2 linked regions of the Homo sapiens genome follow. The protein of the gene in region 1 purifies or fractionates together with the protein of each later gene. This does not show direct contact. Each region holds a gene or a part of one and is shown on either strand. Other genes may lie near its edges.

Region 1 (3,500 bases):
TAAAAAATAAAAATAAAATAAAGGCTTTATTAGTATTCCCTTACAAGACACTTAAATTTTTTTCCTTAAAAATGTTTCAAATTATAATACTAACCAGTAAAATAGTATTACCATAAAATGGAACGAGGGAACTATTATAATGTAACATATTGAAAGGCTGCCAGAGGCAGCTCATGCCTATTATCCCAGCACTTTGGAAGGCAGAGGCAGGTGGCTATCTCTTGAGCCCGGGAGTTCGAGACCAGCCTGGGCAACATGGTAAAACCCCATCTCTACAAGAAATACAAAAATTAGCTGGGCGTGGTGGCACGTACTTGTAGCCCCCAGATACTCAGGAGGCCGAGGTGGGATGATCGCTTGAGCCCAGGAGGCGGAGACTGCAGTAAGCCAAGATTGCACCACTGCACTCCAACCTGGGCAAGAGAGCAAGACCCTGTTCCAAGGGAGGAAAATCAAAGGGTACCAGAGGGAGCACACAGTAATTCTCAGATTATGAAAGCATAATACAATCCTTTATTCATTTAATGAGTAATCTGACTCCACAATAGGAAACTTCTGTAATATCTAAATTATTCACTTAAATATTAAGTTTAGTAAGCTTTCCCAATTGAATCACAAATTCCTCCTAGAGACGATGTTACCTCTTTTATAACAGCCACTGTGTGTGTGTATGTGTGTGTATGTAAGAGTAATTAAACTCAAGGTAGGAATGCACAACAGGGGGAGATTTGAGACTAGACAACAAAACTTCAGAGAAAAAGGTAGAATTTGAAAATTAGCTATAACCATTTTTTTAATAAAGTAGTTTTTAATTACAATCAAAGGGATTTACACTAGGAAAAGAATAATAATATACTCATAATGTCCATTTTTGACATTATTTGTATATATGTACCTGGAAATATTTACATAATGAACATTAAGAGTAGACCTGGAAATATTCACATAATGAACATTAAGAGTAGACCATGGGAATATTATTATAACTAAAGTTTTCCAAAATCTGAAAATATTCTAAAAAATATACTGGATATAAGATACAATATCTGGCACACTGTACAACTCCAATGCTATTATTGTTATAAAGGCAAAGAAATGAAAAATAAGCAAACAACGATAATCCCTTCAAGTCTATTTTTTTTTAAAGTGCTTAAAAAAGCCCCCAAAAAACCCAAAACAAAACAAAAAAACCCAAAACCAAAACCCATACCTTCTTGGGAAGAGGTTCTTCGTTGGTCATCTTGAATCCTAAAAAAAAAAGTTGCGGAAAACAAGTTCAATTTATTTTCTTCCAGTGAAAGTAGGAATAAAAAATACTGACTCTTTCAAATCAATTTATTAGTGAACTAAATTACTGTTGAATAATTAGAATTTAAATAAACAATTTTAAAATAGTTTTAGATTTACAAAAAAGTGGCAAAGATATTACAGAGTTCCTATATACTCTGTACCCAGATCTTCCTTTGTTAACATCTTCCATCATTAGAGTTATTGGGTAGTTTTTACAAATTCCCTCGTAAAAAAGCTGATCAGCCATTCAAATCATTTGATGTCGCCATAAAGGGTGAAGAGAAATATAATGACCTCAAGTAGTATCCTACGCATGTTGCTAAGGGACTATAAAAGGGTAATACCAGTTTAAGTCTTTCCTTTTATAGCATTATGTTGTTAAAGTAAGGTAGTACCTACCACAGCCATAATTTACTACTGCCCAATAGTTTTTTAGATATATTATATATTTTATTTTTATTTTTTTTGAGACACAGTCTCACTCTGTCGCCCAGGATGGAGTGCAGTGGCGCGATCTCAGGTCACTGCAACCTCCGCCTCCAGGGTTCAAGCAATTCTCCTGCCTCAGCCCCCTAAATAGCTGGGACTACAGGTGCGTGCCACCACACCTGGCTCATTTTTGTATTTTTAGTAGAGACGGGGTTTCACCGTGTTGGTCAGGCTGGTCTCGAACTCCTGACATTGCAACCCGTCCGCCTTGGCCTCCCAAAGTGCTGGGATTACAGGAATGAACCACCACGCCCATCCTATTACATATTTTAAAATATATGTTACACTGGTTGGGCGTGATGGCTCACGACTGTAATCTCAGCATTTTGGGAGGCTGGTGGGTGGATCACTTGAGGTCAGAAGTTCAAGACAAGTCTGGCCAACATGGTGAAACTCGGTCTCTACCAAAAAATTAAAAAAATTAGCCCGGCGTAGTGGCACACGCCTGTAATCCCAGCTACTAGGGAGACTGAGGCAGGAATCGCCTGAACCTGGGAGGCGGAGGTTGCAGTGAGCCGAGATGGCGCGCCACTGCATTCCAGCCTGGGCAACAGAGACTCCATCTCAAACAAACAAACAACAAAAACTCACATACACATGTATGTCACACCTTAATAAAAATATTCCTACAGTATTTAATTTTATGCCAAATATTTTGTATCTCAAAATTAGCTTCTTTATTATACAAAATTCACTTAACCCTGTTTCAAAGATAGGTTAATGAATTCAAGTAGGGAACACTTTATTATGCTGTTTTTTAGAACGAATGCTAATAGCAGGTATTATTCATTAAACTACAAATCCACACACAAAAAAAAGACAAAGAAAAAATGTGTAATAAACATAAACACCACATTAAAATACAAGGTTGGAAAAAAAAGTATACGACATGAAGAGCTAACCTGACAAACATAAAATCTTTATATAAAAATTCTATGAGGATTAAAAAATTGAATCAGGGTTCTGAGTACCAGTGCTCTTTTGAAAAAGCATCTAAATTGCATTTGGCATATTCATAACTTATACAAATTAAGTAATTAGTTCTTATACTAATTTAGTTTTTCCTATTCTTTCTTTCTTAAGAGATGGGGACCCACCATAGTGCCCAGGCTAGTCTTGAACTCTTGGGCTCAAGTCATACTCTCATCTCAGCCTCCCAAGTAGCTAGAACTACCTGTGGAAGGATCACGCCCAGCCCTAGTTATTATTTCTAATAGTATACTCATGAATCTTCCCTTACTTTAAAGTGTTTATGGTTTATTTTAATTACCCATACTTATTATAAATTCTAAACTACTAGAAATTTGACCAAAAGCTTGGTATGTTAAACTGAATTTTTTTTTTTTTTTTTGAGATGGAGTCTCACTCTGTTGCCAGGCTGGAGTGCTGTGGCATCATCTCGAAAGCTACTTGAGGCTGGTGTGGTGGCTCACACTTGTAATCCCAGCACTTTGGGAGGCTGAGGCAGGAGAGCTGCTTGAGCCTAGGAGTTTGAACCGAGCCCGGGCAATGTGGTAAGACCCTGTCTCTCATTAAAACAAACAAACAAAACACACACACACCAAGACTACTTGATTTCTCCCACTTGATTTTGAGATTCCTCAAAAGGAGATAATCTTCCAACAGCATGTTTTATACTACGTACAATCTCAACTCCACTTTATAAATGAAACATTCTAATCATACTGTTATTAAACCCTGGTTTTCAGATTAAGTAAATT
Region 2 (3,500 bases), on another chromosome or scaffold:
TAATCCCAGCTGCTTAGAAGGTTGAGGCACGAGGATTGCTTGAGCCCAGGAGTTTGAGGCTACAGTAACCTATAATCACACTACTGCACTCCAGCCTGGGCAACACAGTGAGATCCTGTCTCTAAAAATAAATAATTTTAAAAACTAAAAATATTTCTTAACTATACGAGTACACATTTTTGTTCATCTTGTATAACATACCATAGAATTCAGTCATTCAAAATATATAATTCAGTGGTTTTTAGTATTTCACAGTGTTATAACCACCACCATAATCAATTTTAAAACATTTTCATCACCCCAAAAAGAAACTCCATATCCATTAGCCATCGCTCCCATTCCTTCCCATCCCTGTACCCTATGGAACCACTAAACCTAATTTCTGTCTCTGGACTGGCCTATCCTAGACATTTCATCTAAATGGAATCATACAATAGGAGGTCCCTTGTGACCAGCCTTCTTTAACTAGCATGTTTTCAAGCTTCATCCACTGTTACAGCATGCATCACCACTTACTTTTATGGGTGAATAATTTTCCATTATAAATATACAACATTAAAAGAAATGTATCCATCAGTTCATGGACATTTGGGTTGCTTCCACTTTTTGCTACAATAAAAAGATGTACAATATCATTAACTATTGGGGAAGTGCAAATCAAAACCACAAGATACCACCCCATACCCACTAGGGTGGCTATAATCAAAAAGACAAGTATTAAAGATGTGGAGAGGCCGGGTGCAGTGGCTCACGCCTATAATCTCAGCACTTTGGGAGGCCAAGGCAGGAGGATCATGAGGTCAGGAGTTCAAGACCAGCCTGACCAACATGGTGAAACCCCGTCTCTACTAAAAATTCAAAAATTAGCCAGGCATGGTGGCGTGTGCCTGTAGTCCCACGCTGGGAGGCTGAGACAGGAGAATCGCTTGAACCTGGGAGGCAGAAGTTGCAATGAGCCAAGATTGCGCCACTGCACTCCAGCCTGGGTGACAGAGTGAGACTCTGTCTCAATAAATAAATAAATAAATAAATATGTGGAGAAACTGGAACCATTGCACATTGCTGATGAGCACGTATTAATAAAATGGCACAATGCCTCTGGCAAATAATCTGGTAATTCCTCAAACATTTAAACATAGAGTTACTATATTAACCCAGTAATTCCATTCCTAGGTACACATCCAACAGAACTGAAAATACATGTTCACACAAAATGGGTACACAAATATTCACAGGGGCATTTTCCTTAATAGCCAAAAGTGGAAATAACCTAGACGTCCATCGACTGATAGATTAAAAGAAAAAAGTGCTATATCCATGTAGTGGAATATTACTCAGCCATAAAAAGAAATGCTGATGCATGCTTCAACATGGATGAACCTTAAAATCATTATGCTAAGGAAAAAAGCCAGTCACATAGGACTACGTATTTTATGATTCCATTTAGATGAAATGTCCAGAACAGGCATATCCAGAGCACGTTAGCAGTTGCCAGCAGATAGGAAGAGAGGAAATGGGAGTGACTGCTAACCAGGTACAAGGTTCCTTCTTGGAGTGATGAAATGTTCTGGAATGAGACAGTGGTAATGGTTGCTAAACTTCATAAATATAATAAATTATCATTGAATTGTACATTTAAAAGCCTGCATTTTATGGCATATGAATTATACCTCAAAAAGAAAAACAAATTTAAAATAATCAGAATGATTACCAATTCGTATAGTTACAGGATATTCTAAATTATTTGAGGGAGGGAGGGTCTTAGTAGCTTAAGAAGCTTAAGCTCTTTTCCCCCTAATGTTCAATATGATCTTTTAAATTATCCTTCTTATTTTAGTCAACAAGTTCTGCTGTTTGCACCAGGATTATCTTGGGTCACAACATTTAGAAAAAACTAAATTAATTTAACAAATATTTATTAAGCACCACTTCTTATACGCAAGGTACCATTCTAGAGCTGGAGAAGTAATAGAGAACAAAACAAAATCTCTGTTCTCATTAAGCTTAAAGGCTTGGAAGAGGAGACAACAAACGAGTAAAATATATCAGAGCAGAAATAAAGGAAACAGGATAGGAAGGTGCTACTTTGCACAAGATGGTCATGGAAGAAAACTCTTAAACAGTTTGAGTCCTGAATGAAGTCAAAGAGTAAGCCATGTGGATATTTGAGGGGGAAAAGTAAACCAAGAAGAGAAAACAGCTAAAGGTCCTAGGTAGGAATTGGTCTGGCCAACAGCAAAGAGACTAATGTGGCTGAAAAAGAGTGGTAGGATAGGGTTAGAAAGGTGGTGGGAAAACAGACCAGAAAGTACCTTGTAGACAATGGTAAAGAATGAGACAGACAGGAAACCATGAGAAGATTGAGCAGAATGTCATTTTTTTTTTAGAACTTCTGTTATGTGGAGTACAGACTGTAGGGGGCAGTCTATACTTCCAGTTAGGAAGCTACTGCCAAAGTTTAAGTGAGAGATGATAGTGGCTTTGACCAAGTGGTATAAGTAAAGTTAGTGAGAAGTATTCAGACTCTGCATATATTTTGAAAATATTCTCAGTTTAGTATAAATTGGTATAATCTTCTAAGATAAGTAAGCAATATAAGAAATAAGAAAATTCTTTATCATTGTGCATCTAACAATTTATCCTTAAAAGAAAATCCAAAATCTGTACCAAAAGACTTATATAAAATGATGTCTGCTGCAACATTATTTACAATAGGCAAAAGTGGAAACCACCACGATAACCAAAAATAAGAAAGGTAAATTACAGTAGCATACCAGGTATGATGCAAAAGAATTAGACATTAGAGAGGATGTGTATTTATTTTTATTCCTTATATCAAACATATAAAACACATGAATTATAATTCCATTATTTATTTATTTATTTATTTTTAGGAAAAAGCCCAAAAGAATCTTCACTAAAATGTTAAAAGTAAACATCAATGAATGGTAGGACAGTGGTATTTTATTTTCTTACTTTTAGATATCTGTATTTATAATGTTCTCATGCTGAGGCTATCCCACTTGTATAGTTTAGTAGTGAAATAAAGCAAAATATCCATGTAACACATTATTCAGTTGCCCATCTTCTCCCATCTCTTAATCACAGGGAGAGTAATGGTTCTTAAACTGTCATTTCAACAACCATTTCAACCACAGATAGAGAAAACTTGGGAAAAATAGAAAATAAATCTGTCCACATTTCCACTCTACTGGTTTTAGTGTGTTAGGTAATAGGGTACGTAAAATGAAAAGTATCAATCTTTGCCCAAGAACCTCCTTCCAATGTAAACAATCATGTGTTGTTTGTATACATGTGTATACATGTGTAATTAACATTAACTTAAAGGAAAGTTAACTTGTAAAAACTGTATCACTAGCTACTAAATCAAAAAGAAAGAAAAAAAAAACTTACCCCTTTGACTGGCCATTTGCCCGATTTTCAAAAAATTTTATCTCCAAAATATCATTTACTCCCAAAGAATGAACTGCTTCAGTTAA

What was found. The genes of interacting proteins can lie anywhere in the genome.
Region 2: the proteins of WTAP (region 1) and CPSF6 purify together in Homo sapiens (affinity purification with mass spectrometry; 2 studies listed by BioGRID and IntAct, with this or other methods). This does not show direct contact.

Annotation. Positions count from the first base shown.
Region 1 is NC_000006.12:159,734,006-159,737,505, reverse strand, and holds part of WTAP (pre-mRNA-splicing regulator WTAP), read right to left. Parts: intron 1,249-3,500; coding exon of another isoform or gene 1,241-1,248; coding exon 1,211-1,240; intron 1-1,210. UniProt on the Homo sapiens protein: Associated component of the WMM complex, a complex that mediates N6-methyladenosine (m6A) methylation of RNAs, a modification that plays a role in the efficiency of mRNA splicing and RNA processing.
Region 2 is NC_000012.12:69,253,069-69,256,568, reverse strand, and holds part of CPSF6 (cleavage and polyadenylation specificity factor subunit 6), read right to left. Parts: coding exon 3,415-3,500; intron 1-3,414. UniProt on the Homo sapiens protein: Component of the cleavage factor Im (CFIm) complex that functions as an activator of the pre-mRNA 3'-end cleavage and polyadenylation processing required for the maturation of pre-mRNA into functional mRNAs.